Regions from separate parts of the Homo sapiens genome. Here region 1 is linked to region 2. A link means that fine-mapping ties the variant in region 2 to the expression of a gene that starts in the linked region. Tissue or cell type: testis. Region 2 holds a variant in brackets; the other region holds the start of a gene. All regions are shown on one strand. Distances are from middle to middle.

Region 1 (8,111 bases), 440 kb after region 2:
AGCCCGGGGAGGGCTGGGCTGCCCAGCTGATCAGAGGCTTTCTCCCGGATTGCGAGTTCTCTGGCCCGCGGCACCCTCCCGCGCGGGGGCCGCCCACCCACAAGCCCTGCCCCGAAGGCGTGTGCGGCCAGGAAGGCGGGGCCTGGTGTCCTCAGGGCTCTGGCGCCAAGTTCAGAGCCGCGCGCTGGGCGCTTGGCGGTGGCGGCCGCGTCTGCACCTCCTCCCTGCGCGCCGCCTGACAGTCTGGAGAGACAACTTAGCTTGAGCCCATTTTACAGATGGAAACCCGAGGCTCAGAGAGGTTGAGTGCTTTGCTCAGGGTTACTGAGAGGAGTGAGGTTTCTGCATCTGCCTCTTCGGAGGCATTGGCTGAAATTCATCTCTGATGTCAGGCACCCCCTCTGAGGAATCTGCTCGGAAAAGGCATCGGGAGCTGCAGCACGTGGTTTGCATCCTCTCCATGCAACAAAGGACCTAGACTTCCAGGAGTCACAGGGTAGTCTGCAGGGCAGGGTAGAGATGTTCCACAGAAGCTGGTCAAAAGCTGGAATATCATTAAAGATCACAATATACCACAACATCAGGTTCCATTATTTCTGAGGAGGCAAAGCAACTACATATTTTAGAAATTTACTGTTAATTTCTTATTTCCAGTCAGTCTCACCCAAATGTTTCAAGTGCAAAGCCCTGGCCTCCCACTGTCTTCCCACAACCCAGGTCTGTATCCTGTCCCTTGCCTCCCCTGCACCTGGCATTGCACAGAAGGTGTGGGTGGCAATGTCCCCTAAAAGCTTCTGCAAGGCTTAGCTTCCTGCTGTGCTGTCTGTGCCTCTATGAGTAAACGCAAAATGTCAAGAAAAGGATTCAATTGTCTTGTATCTAAAACCAGGTATTTTTTTCAGGTGACCCTGAAAATTCAGAGATTTATAATTTGATCATCTATGTACTTTTTCCCAGGAAAGGCACTGAACGGGTTACATGTGCAGATCTTTGTATATACTCTGTTGGAGAAAGGATCTGGGCTGAAGACGCCAGCACCTAGCACAAGCCCTGGATGAGAATAATGGGGCACTACAAGATGAACAGAGAGAGGGCTGGGGCGGGGAGGGGTGGATGCAAACGATTATGGCCAAGAAGTCACCTTAGGGGAAAAACATAAGAAGAATTCTTGCTTGCAAGAGAGAAGGAAGCCTATAGGGAGAGTGAGGGGAGAGGCCGAAAGAGAGAGAAGGAAAAAGGATAAAAGAGAAATAGCCAACAAGGCGGACACAAGAAAAAGGGAGAGATGAGAGAAACAGGAGAGGACAAGGAGACAAGAAGCAGAGAGGCAAGAGACAGGGACAGCAATGGGACTCGGAAAGGACATGGGAGAGAGCTGGAGGAAGCTGACAGAGGGAAGGGAAGAACCCCCCGCCGTCAAAGGCAGGACTCAAGAACGCTGCCTTTCGTGCAAGTGAGATGGGCTCCGCTGCCCGCGCCCGCTTGTTCTCGGTCTTGGCCGACCTGAGGGTGCGTCTCTCCCGGGCTCTCCAGAGGCGCGCAGGGGGGGAAGTGCAGACGCGGCCGCCACCGCCCAGCCCAGGGCGCGGCTCTGAACTTGGCGCCAGCGCCCAGAGGCCACCAGGCCCCGCCTTCCTGGCTGCACCCGCCTTCGGGGCGGGGCTTGCGGTTGGGCGGCTCCGGCGGGTAGGGCGTCGCGGGCCAGAGAAACGGCAACCTGGGAGAAACCCCCCTATTGATCCGTTGGGCGGCCCGGCCCTCCCCCGGCTCAGCTCCCCGGAGCCACCCCCAGCTGGCTCGGACCGGGACTGGCGCCTGCGACTATGCCTGCGGGAGGGCGAGGGCGTCCTTTGGAGGCGGTTCCCTCTCACGCCGCCGCCCTCTGGCTCCTGGGCCTGCCGGGTCTCGGCGATGGGCGAGGGCTGTGCCCGGTGCCTGCGGCTCCCTCCGCGCCGTGGACCCCCGCGGCCTCCCGGCCTTCCTTACCCCGGCGGCCTGGCGGCCCCGCGAGCTTCACCTCCCCAGCATCCGAATCGCGCAGCTCCTCCCGCGAGCGCCCGCCGCCTTCGCTCCCCAGGCCCCAGCTGAGACCGCCAGGAAGGCGGGCTCCTCGACCCCAGATCATAAGAGGTGTCTGGGAACTAAGGGTGGGAGGGGGCCAGGGTAGAAAATGTCAGTTCAAGTACGTTAAAATTAAGAACTTAGGCTTTGTTTAAAAAACAATAAATGAAGTGAAAAAAACAAGCCACAGAGTAAAAGAAGATACTTGCAGCAAGTGATAAAGGATTAGTATCCAGGATATATAAAGACTGTTATTGAGTCAATGTGAAAGAGAAAAACACCTGAAGCAAAGAATGGATGCCGGCATTAAATAGGCACTTCAAAGAGGAACCATGAACGACCAAAATCAAGTGAGTAGGTGACCAGTTCCCATTAGTAATTAGGAAATAGCAAATTAAGACCACAAAGAGGGCAGTGAGGGTGGCTCACACACCTCTAATCTCAGCGCTTGGGAGTCCAGGGCCAGAGGATCCCTTGAGGCCAGGAGGTGGAGTCTAGCCTGGGAAACATAGCAAGACCCTGTCTCTACAAAAAAATAAATAAATAAAATAAGAAAAAAGTAAACCACAAGGAGATGACTTACCACCAGGCAAAAATATTAAAGTATGCTAATACCAAGTATCAAGAAGAATGAAGCAAGATAGCTCAAATATGCTTTTGAAGGAAATATACTGGGCTTCATTCATTCTGAAATACCCCTTATTTAAGATACTCTATTATATTAAATACAGTTCCAAAACAAAAGAAATCAAAGAACAAAAAACTAACCCAATACTTTTATCACTTGTAATTTGTATATTACACATATTGAAAGATATATTTTAGACTTATTAGAGAACGATTTTTAATTGGATATCACTCTTGTGCATACAAAATAAAATAAAATTGATTAAGGTGTTTCTAACAGTTACAGTCTGACTTTTCTGAGTCCTGTTTGAGTCTCACTCATTGGTGCCTACGTCTTTCCACACACTGTAACCTCTCTGCTATTCAAAGCGTTGGTCATACAGCAGTTTTGACACTGGGATGTGAACCTGTCCACATTCTTTCCCTAGAGAGGGGGCCTGTGTTCCTGCCCATTGACTCTTGGCAGCTGTGACTGCTTGGACCAATAGAGCACAGTGGAAGTGACACTGTGTGACTTCCAAGGTGATGTCATAAAAAGCTCTACAGTTTCTGCCGTGCTCACTGAAAATACTCACTCTTGGACCTCTGGGCCACCTGTAAAAGCCCAAGCACCCTGAAGCTGCCATGCTGGGAGGAAGCCCAGGTCACACGGGGAGGCTACATGCAGGGTCTCCATTCACAGTCCCAGCTGAGCCCAGGTTTTGGGCCCTCCTGCCTAGGAGCCACACTTGTGAGTGGAGCAGCCTCCAGATAATTCCAGTGCCCAATCCTTCAAGTTATGGGGCCCCAGACATGAGGAGCCCTCCTAACTCCGCCCTGAGTGCCTGATCCTCAGAACCTGTGAGCATAATAAAATGGGCCTGTTCTGTGTCCCTAAATGTAGGTGGTCTGTTACACAGCAGTAGAGAACCGGAATGTCCCTCATTCACAAAGACTCTGGCAACACTGCAGTTTCCATCTCCTTCCCGAACTGCCATCTCCTGGGGGACTTCAGTGTCACACAAATAACCTCCCATTGCCAACACTCTGGCCTCCCAGTCCTTGACCTCCTCACCCACAGCAATGTCCTCACCTAACTCACCTGGGCTAACTCTTCCAATGAACAAACAGCAGGGTCTAGTGGTTTTAAGGGACACTGTGAGGGCTGTTATAAGGGAAATGGAGGCTTCCTCTTGTAGCCCCTCCAAAGGTCCTGTGCCTCCCCCTGATGTTGTCAACATGCAGGACATTGGGAAGAGCTGCAGGTCACAAAGTCACCATGTCAACCTTCCTGTCAACCATAACAGAGAATTCTGTCCCCAGGGTGGGGGAAGGGCCAGGCAGGTAGCTGGAAGCAAGTCTCCCAGAGCCAGCTGCTGACCCTAGTCCCTGCGATCTGGGGAGGTACCTGGTGGAGGGCCATAGTGTGCACTGGTGAAAGGGCAGGAGGAGGGGTGTGGCCCCGGGCATAAGGGGAGGCGGCAAAGAAGGGGCCTGTGCTCAGCCTCTCTGGGCCCTGGCACAGGCACCCAAGAGTGAGGTGGGGTCACAGGGACAGCCAGATAATGGGGAGCCATGAGTCCCTGGGGCCCTACTTCCTGGTCTTCCTGCTGCTGCTGCTGCTTCCTCCACCGCTTTTTAGAGCAGGAAGCCTTCGGTACCATGGACCTGACTGGAGAATATTTCACCGCCTGGCCCTGGGCTCCAGGAGAGCCCACCACCACCATGGCCCAGGATGGAGGCAGCACTGGCGCCAGGGGCAAGCAGGTCACAGATGCCAGGGCTCATTTGACCTCTACTTCATCTTGGACAAGTGAGTGTCCCTTCTAGCTCTGGCCCTGGGTCACCCTCAGGAGCCACTGTCTCTTTTTCACTAGGGACAGGACACCACTCAAGGAGATGCAAGCTTCCGTCACAGAAGCAGGGCCAAACTTTGGTCAGACCAGACCTAGGCCTCCTGTTTTTCTGAGGCAGAAAGAATGCCCTGGCTTTCTTTTCCCTGGTGCTTCATCTCCTGGATGAGGAAAAAAGCCACCAAAGGGGTTCTGGACGATTCCCTACCCCTCCATCAGCTGGGTCAGCATCCTCATCCTCACGCTGCTGCAACAGATGATTGCTCGGACCTGCCTCTCAGCAGTTCTCAGATGCTCACTGCGGATGTTTGGGGTTTCTGTGTTGTTTTGCTTGTTTGTTTTTTCACGCAAATGACTTCTATTTTACTGGGCCCCACAGAGATTGCTTTGTTGCCTGTGTTGGGCATTCTAATGTCACTGCTTAGAGAAGGCCTTTGGTTGGCTGCTTCTAAGTGCCTCTTCTGCAACTTGGAGAGCCACGCGATAGTTCCTACACTTTCAGAACAGTTTGGTCTGTTTCAGGCTGGCCCTGGGGAAGCTGGGCTACGTATTAGGCACCTTCTGGCTCACCAGGAAAGAAAAGAGGCAAATGTTCAGCTTTGGAGAGATTGCCTTGGTTCCCTTTCCTGCTCCTCCTGCTGGGTGGTAATACTCTGTGCTTATTCAGTAGCAGCAGTGGTGCAATCTTCAGGAGAATGTTGCAGCACTTTCTGGCCTCCAAAGCCCTTCCCCTGCACTCCTGGCACCTCACCACAATCCTGGGCTGTGAGTAGTACAGGTATTTTTCTATCTGGTTCCTGGACAAGGGTGGCTCCTGGAGGTTGGGGAAGCATCCAGAGACAGCTAGTGTGACAAGACTCCGGCTTCCTGTGCTGCACACTTTCCAGCATCGCAGGTTGAAATTCCTCTGATTTTTCTCATTCCTCCTGGATACTAATGGTTAGGGGACGTGTACCCCAGCCCACCAATTCCCATGGTTTCTGACTGTTCTGCTACTCTTGGGGAAGGAGCAACTCAGTTCTGGAGACAGGCAGAGTCCACTCACTAGCCACATAGTCTTGGGCAAGTTGCTTCATCATTCTGTGCCTTCGTGTCCCCCATCTGTAAAAAGGGTATCTTCATTTTCACCTTGCCAAGTGTGATGAGGATGAAGGGAGAATTTGCAGGTCAGAGGCGATGACAGAGGATGGGGATGAAGGGACCTGCCAGGCAAGGCAGAGCCACAGGCTAGAAACTCACAGGAACTGCAGAGGCCCTGATGTAATCCCAGACAGACTGGATGAGGGGGAATGCAGAGGGAGTGCCTAGAGTGGATGTAAAGGGAGCAGACAAAAGCAACCTTAATGAGTCTTCCTAACAAGGCTGGGGGTAAAGGGCATTGCCCCATTCTAAGGAGGAGGCAATGAGCCAGGTCATGGCCAGGGAATGACCCACCACAGCCTCCAGATAGACCATGGTGCTGAATTGAAACTCTGGATTTTGTGACTCCAAAGCCCATCCAAAGACCACGCAGCTGGGCGGGACCCTGAGAAACTTGCGGTAATCCTCCAGGCAGAAACAACATCTACTGCCTGCAGGCAGGCTCTTTGGTCATTAGCGTCCAGCTTATTCATGAGACTCATTATTCACTTGTTCATTGATTGGATTGAGCTGGAAGAAAATGAATCAGCCTCCCATGCGCTCCTATTCTTGGCCAGGTGACATTTGAGGGCTCTAAGTGGGAATGACCCCTTGTATTTTTTGAGTAATTTTTTAATTGTGGGAAAACATACATAACAAAAATTTACCATTTTTAAGTGTACAATTCAGCGGCATTAAGTACATTCACAGTGTTGTGCAATCACCACCATCCATCTCCAGAAATGTTTCATCATTGCGTATTGAAACTCTATTCTCAGCCGGGAGCAGTAGCTCCCTCCTGTAATCCCAGCAATTTGGGAGCCAAGGCAAGAGGATCGCTTGAGTCTAGGAGTTCAAGATCAGCCTGGGAAACATGCAAAATCCTGTCCATACAAAACATACAAAAATTAGCCAGGCATGGTGATGTGTGCCTCCACTCCCAGCTACTCAGCCTGAGCTGAGGCAGGAGGATCGCTTGAGCCTGAGAGGTCAAGACTGCTGTGTGTCAAGATTACACCACTGCACTCCATCCTGGGCGACAGAGTGAGACCCTGTCTCAAACCCCATCCCCATCAAAACCCAAAAAACTTCTATTTCCATTAAACAATAACTCCCCATTCCTCCCTTCCCCAAGCCCTAGTGACCTTTAGTGTATTTTCTCTATCTATGAGTTTGCCTATTGTAGGTACTTCATGTAAGGGGAGTCACACAATGTAATCAAGCAAACATATAATATTTGGCCTTTTCTGTCTGACCTTTTTCACTTAGCATAATGTTTTCAAGTTTATCCCATGTTGTCGCATCCATCAGAATTTCATCCCTTTTATGGCTGAATAATATTTCTCTGTATGTATATGTACCACATTTTCTTTATCTTTTTTTTTTTTTTTTTTGAGTTGGAGTATTCTGCTGCCTGGCTGGAGTTCAGCGGCGCGATCTCGGCTCATTGCAACCTCCACCTCCCAGTTTCAAGCGATTCTCCCTGCATCAGCCTCCTGAGTAGCTGGGACTACAGGGGCATGCCACCACGCCAGGCTAATTTTTGTATTTTTTAGTACATACAGGGTTTCACCATATTGGACAGGTTGGTCTTGAACTCCTGACCTCGTGATTCCCCGGCCTTGGCCTTCCAAAGCGCTGGGATTCCAAGCGTGAGCCACCTCGCCCGGCCTGTTTATCTTTTCGTCTGTTGATGGACACTTGGGTTGCTTCTGCCATTTGGCAATTGTGAATAATGCTGCTATGAACGCTGGTGTATACGTATCTCTTGGAGTCCCTACTCTCACTTCTTTTTGGTATATGCCAGGGAGTGCAATTGATGGATCCTATGGTGATCCTATGTTTAGCTTTCTGAGGAAATGCCAAGCTGTTTCCCACAGTGATTGCACCATTTTGCATTCCCACCAACAAAAGCCCAACATTTGCTATTTTCTGGTTTTTGATAATAGTCACCCCAATGGGTGTGAAGTTGTATCTCCTTGAGGCTTTCATTGGCATTTCCCTAGTGACTAGTGATGTGGAGCATCTTTTCATGTGCTTATTGGCCATTTGCATATCTTCTTTGAGGAAATGTCTATTCAAATCCTTTGCCCATTTTTTTTGTTGCATTTTTTTGTTGTTTCTTTTTCGTTGTTGTTGTAGGAGTTCTTTGTATATTCTGGATATTAATCCCTTATCAGGTATATGAGTTGTAAATATTTCCTCCCATTCTGCAGGTTGTCTTTTCACTCCTTTGGTAGTGTCCTTTGATGCACAAAAGTTTTTAATCTGGATACAGTCTCAACTTTTCTATTTTTAATTTTGTTGCCTGTGTTTTTGGTGCCATATCCAAAAAAATCCCCAAATCTAATGTCATAAAAGTTATGTTTTCTACTAAGAGCTTAAAAGTTTTAGCCTTTACATTTAGGTCTTTGACCCATTTTGAGTGAATTTCTGTAATGGTTTACAGAAGGGTCCAACTTCATTCTTTTG
Region 2 (8,092 bases):
GAAAGTGACTGGAACAGAAGCGAGCCAGTTTGTCTTGCAGAACTAAAGGCAGGTTGTGAACTTACAGGCAAATGGCACTTTGGAAAGTAGGGTAAAATGTGAAAAAAAAAAAAAAGCCAGCAAGGTCAGTTGCAAATCTCTAACTAGAGCCCCAAGTCCACCTGTCCTTCCATCTGACAAGAAACTTAGATGTGTGTTCTCTGGATATATCAAACCTGAGAATTTCTGGCTCAGAGATACCATGGCTTAAACCTGAGATATAAAGAAAACTGTACACCAAAAATGGAACTCCAACTTTCTTCGCTAACTCTGCTTTTCCTTTCCAGGCCTGCTTTTACTTTCCAGGCAGAAAACTGGGAGATCCTTCTCAGAAGAAACTGAAATGTCTTCAAAAAAGATCCCCAGATAATACACTGAGGTCTCCCAAATGAAAAGCTAGTCAGGCTTCTAAGGCCTCACACTGAGTGCTATCAGTTAACAGAAATCCTGCTTCCAAATAAAGCAGGCCAGGAACCACCACACATTGGAGGGAAGCCTCCAAGAAAAGAGATCAAAACAATAGAAAAAAGGAATTGATAGGACCAGTCAAAATCAGGAGCAAAACTTTAAAAAAAAATCTTAAAACACTCTCAAAAAATATAAAATTCAATAGAAATAGTAGAGGATAAAGTCACAGAATATCCCAGAACTAGAATAAAAAGACAAACTGAAAAAAATACAAGGGGAAAAATTAAAAATCAATGCAGGCGTACTGGTCTAAGCAGCCTAGCATCTGAATAACAAGACTATCAGTAAAAAAGTAACAGAGAAAATAAAAAAAAAAATTCTCAAGAAGAGATAGTCTGCAGGTTTAGTAGCCTCAATAAAATGAAAAGATCCCCAACAAGCTGTTATAAAATTTCAGAACCTTAGAGAGAGAGATTCTAAAAAGCTTCCGCAGATAACTAAAACCTGGTTGTAAATAACATATCACACACTGGCAATAGATTCAAGAACAACACTGTAATAAGAGCACAACTGCAAAATGTCTTCAGAACCATACAATTTAGATTCAACCTAGAGGTGTACTCTCTATCAAAGAGGAGGGATTTTAACATCTCCACACAGGAAAATGTGTTCAAGTACAACTAGAGACGATAACAGGACAGAAGGAAACACAGAATCTAGGACTCAGGCGATCCCACACAAGACAGCAGTTACATGAGATACCAAAAGACTTTAAAGAGTTAGCCCAGAAAAGCAGACATTGAGCATATCTAGGGAAACCCACGCTATATTGAACTAGGATGACAAAAGGCCAAAGAAAGTTGCCCCCCACACAAACATAAAAAGGAACAGATGTGTTTTCGCAGATGGAAAATATCTTTGAAAGGCATGTGATAAATGCTACAATACTTGGGGGAAAACAGCTGTTAGAAAACAGGCAAATGAATATAGTCAGAAAATTAGCTTCATGCTAAAAAATAATGGATGTGAAAGCAAACAGAGCACCCAGAGGCTACTTAACGATATTTGGATAGATAAACTAACGTAGGCTAGGAAAAAAGAAGATCCAGGAGAATTGCAGAAGTGCTCAGATTTCAGAACTGTTTCAGAGACAGGATGAAGGACATGGAATGCAGAGGCACAGTGAAAACACCATATGACTTAGCAGTGAATAATATTTGCAGAGTCATAATCATGTAAATATTACTGATTTAATTAAAAAGTGTGCTACAATTGGAAGAAACACAGGGAGAAACATAAGATCATGGTGTAGCGGGGAAGGTATGCTTTTACCTGCTGTGACAGAAAGTCAATAGACAGTGCTGGCAATTAACTTAGCTATTCTATTTTTGTTCTTTCATTAAAAATAAGATTAAATATTTAAGGCAATTTTTTTTTTTTTTTTGAGACAGAGTTTTGCTCTGTCGTCCAGGCTGGAGTGCAATGGCGCGATCTTGGCTCACTGCAACCTCCGCCTCCTGGGTTCAAGTGATTCTCCTGCCTCAGCCTCCTGAGTAGCTGAGATTACAGGCATGCACCACCACGCCCAGCTACTTTTGTATTTTTAGTAGATACAGAATTTCACCATGTTGGTCAGGGTTGTCTCAAATTCCTGACCTCAGATGATCAGCCTGCCTCGGCCTCCTAAAGTGTTGTGATTACAGACGTTAGCCACCATGCCCAGCCTTAAGGCAGATCTTTTGAACCGGACTATTGAAATTTAACTTAAATGTCAGAAATCTTTAAAAGGTGGACACGCTAAACTAAGCACTTTTCTGGATAAATTTAATACTCAGGAAAATAGAAGAGATTTAGAAAATCCACAAAAAGAGGTCCATGCTACCACCACCAGGTCCACATTGTAATTTAAAGAAATCAAGAGAGACATCCTTTTATGTCAAACTATCAATTTCTTAACTATTTGAGTGTTTACTTACATGGTTTGTACAGTTGCTTCTTCTTATTTCTACAACTAAGAATAAAAAAAAAAAAACTGGTCACTTCTGATACAAATACCATAAAATAAAAGTAGTTGTTAACATCTTACTGATTACTCCTATGAAAAATGAGACAAAATTCCATTAAAAAAAAAATTTTCAATAACATATAATTTAAATTATCTGGCATGATTAATTTCATAAGTCAAATCTAAAAACTTAGATTTTCATTTAGTTTACTTTTTGTTTCTATTACACACAAATGAAAGAATCCTCATGTACAAAAGAAAAGGGCAAAAAAATTAGGCCAGATGAAAAATTTAGCTAATAAAAAGTTTAACTGTTGCATATATGAGCCATGATCCATTAGTATTCTCTCATTCTGCATTTACACATAGCTTACTTTAATTATCAGACTCTAAGAGCTAACAGTTCTAAAAACTACTTCCTGACCAGACACCTATCTCTAGATGCAACAGAATCCCTGTAAGCATCTTGAACCACACTTAGTGGTTATCTACTAATATGTCACTAAAAACAAAACAAAATTAAAAAATGGTCTTTACACAACTGGAAAGTAACCTATCTTAAATTTGTTTTCTTTTTTGAGATGGAGTCTCACTCTGTCACCTAGGCTCGAGTGCAGTGGCGGGATCTCAGCGCACTGCAACCTCTGCCTCCCAGGTTCAAGCAATTCTTCAGCCTTAGCCTCCGGACTAGCTGGGACCACAGGCACGTGCCACCATGCCTAGCTAATTGTTTTTTGTATTTTTAGTAGAGACAGAGTTACACTGTGTTAGCCAGGATGGTCTTGATCTCCTAACCTCGTGATCCACCCACCTCAACCTCCCAAAGAGTTGGGATTACAGGTGTAAGCCACAGAGCCTGGCCTAAATTTTGATGTTAAAATAAGTATACAAACCTAATTGGACATGGTGTCTGCAGCACAAAAAATCATTTTTTTTCCCTAAAAAGAGGCCAGAATAATAAAAGCCCCAAGAGGGACTTGGGCCATGCTTTGTTTCCTACACTGCCTCTGCCTTTGATGCTGGGAGGGCCTTGTAGGCAAAAGTTACTACCACTGAAGAGTGAGGGACATGGAATAGCTTTTCTTTTACTGCTTCCATGCTCTCTAGGTGTGAGAAGCCCATGCCTCTGGAAGGAACTGGGAAATACAATTCTGATATGTTTTGGATATGTTGCCCCTCCAAGTCTCATGTTAACATGTGACCCTTAATGTTGGAGACAGGGCCTAGTGGGAGGCGTTTGGGTAATGGCAGTGGATTCCTTATGAATGGCTTGGTCCCATCCCCATGGTAATAAGCACATTCTCATTATGGTAATTTAAAAGACTGTGGTACTGGCCAGGTGCGGTGGCTGAAGCCTGTAATCCCAGCACTTTGGGAGGCTGAAGCGGGTAGATCACTTGAGGTCAGGAGTTTCAGACCAGTCTGGCTAACATGGTGAAACCCTGTCTCTACCAAAAATACAGAAATTAGCCAGGTGTTATGGTGCCCACCTATAGTCCCAACTACTCGGGAGGCTGAGGCAGGAGAATTGCTTGAACCTGGGAGATGGAGGTTGTAGTGAGCCAAGATCGTGCCATTGCACTCCAGCCTGGGCAACAGAGTGAGACTCCATTTCAAAAAAAAAAAAAAAGAGTGTGGTACCTTCCCCCTTCCCCTCTCTCCTCCCTCTTTCACGGTGTGGAACCACCTGCTTCCCCTTTGCCTTTTATCATGATTGTAAGTTTGCTGAGGCCCTCACCAGAAGCAGATGTTAAAGCCATGTTTGTACAGCCTGAAAATCTTTGAGCCAATTAAACCTCTTTTTGTTATAAATTACCCAGCCTTAGGTATCTCTTTATAGTAATGTAAAAAATGAAGACAAATTCTAACCAGAAATAACTGACTCAAGATGGGCAAAGTCTACTCAAACTATAAAAACAAAGGTTACAAACTCCCGTGTTTTACTGTGCTGCATTACTTCGCACATTATAATAGAACCCTCACTTGTGTTCTTGCTGTTTAAGTCAACTGGAAAACTTGGCTGTGTATGGCTTGTTGGCAAATAAATGAGGATTTAATATAACATTAAGGGAAATAAGCAGGAGTAAGGCATGTTTAAATTTACATTATATCAAATGAAAAAGTTAATAACCTAAAACTTTTGAGTAGCGTAAACTTGGATGTGGTAAATGAATGTGGTCAGAGGACTGTGTAAGAGGAGGCCCAAATCACAGATTCAATCCCTGATGATAAACGACTATGTTTTTTAATTTGTTTAAATGAAAACCAAGCTGAAGTTCTATCATTCATCTTTAAAATGTACTTTTTGGAGCAAGGGAAAAGGGATTGTAAATAAAGATGAATCCATTAATTATAAATAAAGATAAATCCAAGAATTATAAAGAGAAATCCATGACTCCTCCATCACATCACAAATTAATTGTGTTGATAAAAAGATGGCAAAATGTATAAACAAAAAGGTTACACGTTTTCACTAACATCATAACAACTAAAGGAAAGTATATCACATATTAAAATAAGACAAGGGAACATGTGAAAAGATGAAA[ATT/A]TTAAACCAATATGAGTTTTTCTAAATACTTTCTATAACCTGATCAAACAAGAGCTTTTATTCTTTCTCTTGGTGGAAAAAACAATGTCGTCTCACCATCTGTTTGAGAGTTCCTCTGGAATATTGTGCTTGCCTCTGGATTGGCAGAAGGGTTAAACTCCAAAGCTATATGCATAGAGGAAGAAAAGAAAAAAAGATGTAATCATTGATAAAAATTTATCAACTCGTTTATTCGACTGCTGCATTTAGGCTATTTCACTATCTCTACTTTGATTCTTATCCATTGAAATGAATGTATAGACATAAGAGAGAGCCAGGCAAGATGGCACATGCTTGTAGTCCCAGCTACTCAGGAGGCTGAGATGGGAAAATCACTTGAACCCAGGTCAGGAAGTTGAGGCCAGCATGAGTAACATAATGACACCCTCCTTTATTTAAAAAAAAAAAAAAAAAGAAGAGGTAAATTTTGGCTTTGAGTTGTGTAAAATCAACTTTGCATAAAATAAATCAAGATGGCAGTAAGTTTTAAAAGACAGGTCTATTTTATAGGCAAAATATAAGATGTATTCTAGAGTTTTTAAAATTTTTAAAAAGTAAATTCATCATATCTGTCACTTCCATTTCATTCTGAGGACACAGAACCTTAGTTCTCTTGAGTAGCTGTCTTCCATAGTCATGTGATATCTCTAAGTTTTCATTTCTTCGTTAGCAACACATAGGGAGAACATACACAGGCCTTATTTGTATTGGAAAGGGCCAAGTGAGACATACATAAACTGTGTTGTAATCCTAAAGAATGACAATAAAGAGCCATTTTTGGGCTCTCATCCAACACTACCCATCTACTAACTGGTGTGTAACATCCATCAGGCTTTCCGAACATCACCAAGCAGAGTATAAGTTTACACAAGTACTTACATGCTTTGTGTATAAAGGTACAATCAATTAATTCACATAATACATTTGTTTATTCTAAAGCAATCCTTAAATATCTTGAAATGTGAAGATAGTACTTCCAAGTTACAAAGTCACACTCATAATGAGTCTTAATTATCCTACCTCTTTAAAAATTAAGAGCGCAACCAAAGTTTAAATAGAAGAGCTATAAGACATTTCCTCTACAGTGATGAAATCTCTGGCATTTAAATGAAAACAATAAGCCTACTGGATGTAATATGTTTATGATGCAATGTTTTCTATTTTGAAAATTTCAGTTTTTATTCAAGAACCATATTATTACCCAGAATTACTTTTACTTAGATTCATCTCTTTGCAAAATTTTAGAGGCAAACGAACTAATTGTTTTCTCTTTTCTACCGGCTCCCATCCCCTGCCTCTGCCAGCAGTGTAGAGACTAAAAAACTCCAACTTTCTTTCCTTTTTTTTTTTGTGAGACGGAGTCTCGCTCTGTCACCCAGGCTGGAGTGCATTGGCGTGATCTCTGCTCACTGCAACCTCCACCTCCCAGGTCCAAGCAATTCTCCTGCCTCAGCCTTGTGAGTAGCTGGAACTACAGTCATGTGCCACTACGCCCAGCTAATTTTTGTATTTTTTTTTTAGTAGAGACAGCGTTTCACCATGTTGGCCAGGCTGGTCTGGAACTCCTGACCTCAGGTGATCCGCCTGCCACGGCCTCCCAAAGTGCTGGGATTACAGGCGTGAGCCACCAAGCCCAGCCAAAACTGTAACTTTCTTATCTTTGAACAAGATGCTATTGTCAGGAGGGGAAGGGACAAAGGGGGAGCCATGGCAACAAACACTCTTACAGGGAAGGTCTGACATTTTAACCTGCAATCTTTATATTACACATTGAAAGTCTACATTGACGTTTCATGTCTTTTGAAAGTTTTGACCATGAACCAATCCCCACCTCTCTTTTAGAACAAGGAGGTAAATAAAGTCTGTTAAGTCACCAGAATAAATCTGGAGACACATTTTCTGTTAAAGTAAGAACTTTAACAGAAAAGAGCTTCATAGGTAAACTCCTTTGAGAAACCCCAAACACACACACACAACCATTTTTCTGCAGCCCCGGCTGTGACATTTCACACCTTTCACAATTATTTTAAGCACTCTCCTTTTTTCTTTTTCCTTCTGTGTTCAAATTACAGTTAGAAGAAACTAAGCAGCTTCTATCAAGGTGACTTAAAGCAGCCCATTAAGAATACCATATAGCCTCTCCCATGGCAAACTCCATTCTGATTTTAAATAAGAAATCCCCAAATATTTGAATAGGAACTGTCTTGAGATTTGGCTACTTTAACAAAGGAAACAATTAGGCACTTACCTGGTTCCTTCACTTAGGTACCATCTGGATAGGTACAAAGAAAAAATAAGATGGGTACTGAAAAGTTGGGATATTTGAGTTTTTATTGAGAAAAGGAAGAGAATAGCTCAAAGAAGCCTAAACAAAGTCCCACAGGATAATAAACAGAGCTACAGACACTGTTGTCTCACCATCTGTTTGAGAGTTCCTCTGGAATATTGTGCTTGCCTCTGGATTGGCAGAAAGGTTAAACTCCAAAGCTATATGTATAGAGGGAGAAAAGAAAAAAGATGTAATCATTTATAAAAATTTATCAACTCATTTATTCAACTGCTGCTTATTCGACAAGAGCCATAAATAAATGGTCCCATGCCAGCCTGGGAGAATGAGATGAGAGAGCAAGAACTGGGCGATTGGGAGGGGAGGCGAAAAGAAACTGACTGGACTCGGTGGGGAAATACTAAGGGGTGGGAATTCAAGGCAGAGCCAGCTTTTGTTCCTGGCCAGCTCCCGGGAAAGCTGGCTACAAGCAGAAAGGAGCTCGAAGTGGGGGATGCCTCAAAGGGAACCTTGGGGACAGTAGCAGCCAGAGGCAAACCGAGGGTAGATGGCACCTATCACCTCCTCACCTTCAGGCATCTCCCGGTCACGAACGTGGTGCATGTGGAGGTCCTCACCAACTTCAACAGTCACCTCAGCAGGCTGTACAGCAGCAGCCATGGGCGCTCCTGCCATCCTGTCCCCAGCTCCTGCCTCATAGATCTCAGATTCAGAGGGACACACCGACCCCTGCTGCTGGTCAAACTCGAGGCTGACGCTAGGGTGC

The links. PIP is the estimated chance that this variant, and not a neighbour inherited with it, causes the effect.
Region 1: it holds the start of ANTXRL, and the variant in region 2 is fine-mapped to the expression of ANTXRL in testis (GTEx, PIP 0.97).

What each region holds. Positions count from the first base shown.
Region 1 is chr10:46,283,031-46,291,141 of GRCh38, forward strand. ANTXRL (ANTXR like) reads left to right here and starts at 3,967. Exons shown (of 17, transcript NM_001278688.3): 1 at 3,967-4,480. The coding sequence starts at 4,233. LOC105378577 (a long non-coding RNA gene) reads left to right here and starts at 1,820. Exons shown (of 1, transcript NR_160731.1): 1 at 1,820-2,967. RefSeq lists silencers at 7-156, 1,521-2,010.
Region 2 is chr10:45,839,230-45,847,321 of GRCh38, forward strand. AGAP4 (ArfGAP with GTPase domain, ankyrin repeat and PH domain 4) reads right to left here. Exons shown (of 8, transcript NM_001276343.3): 1 at 7,896-8,092; 2 at 7,458-7,526; 3 at 5,097-5,165; 4 at 2,424-2,458. It also overlaps the pseudogene PARGP1-AGAP4. Among named protein-coding and RNA genes, the nearest start is that of AGAP4, 4.2 kb to the right of the region's middle. The variant ATT/A (reference allele first, on the strand shown) is at 4,999.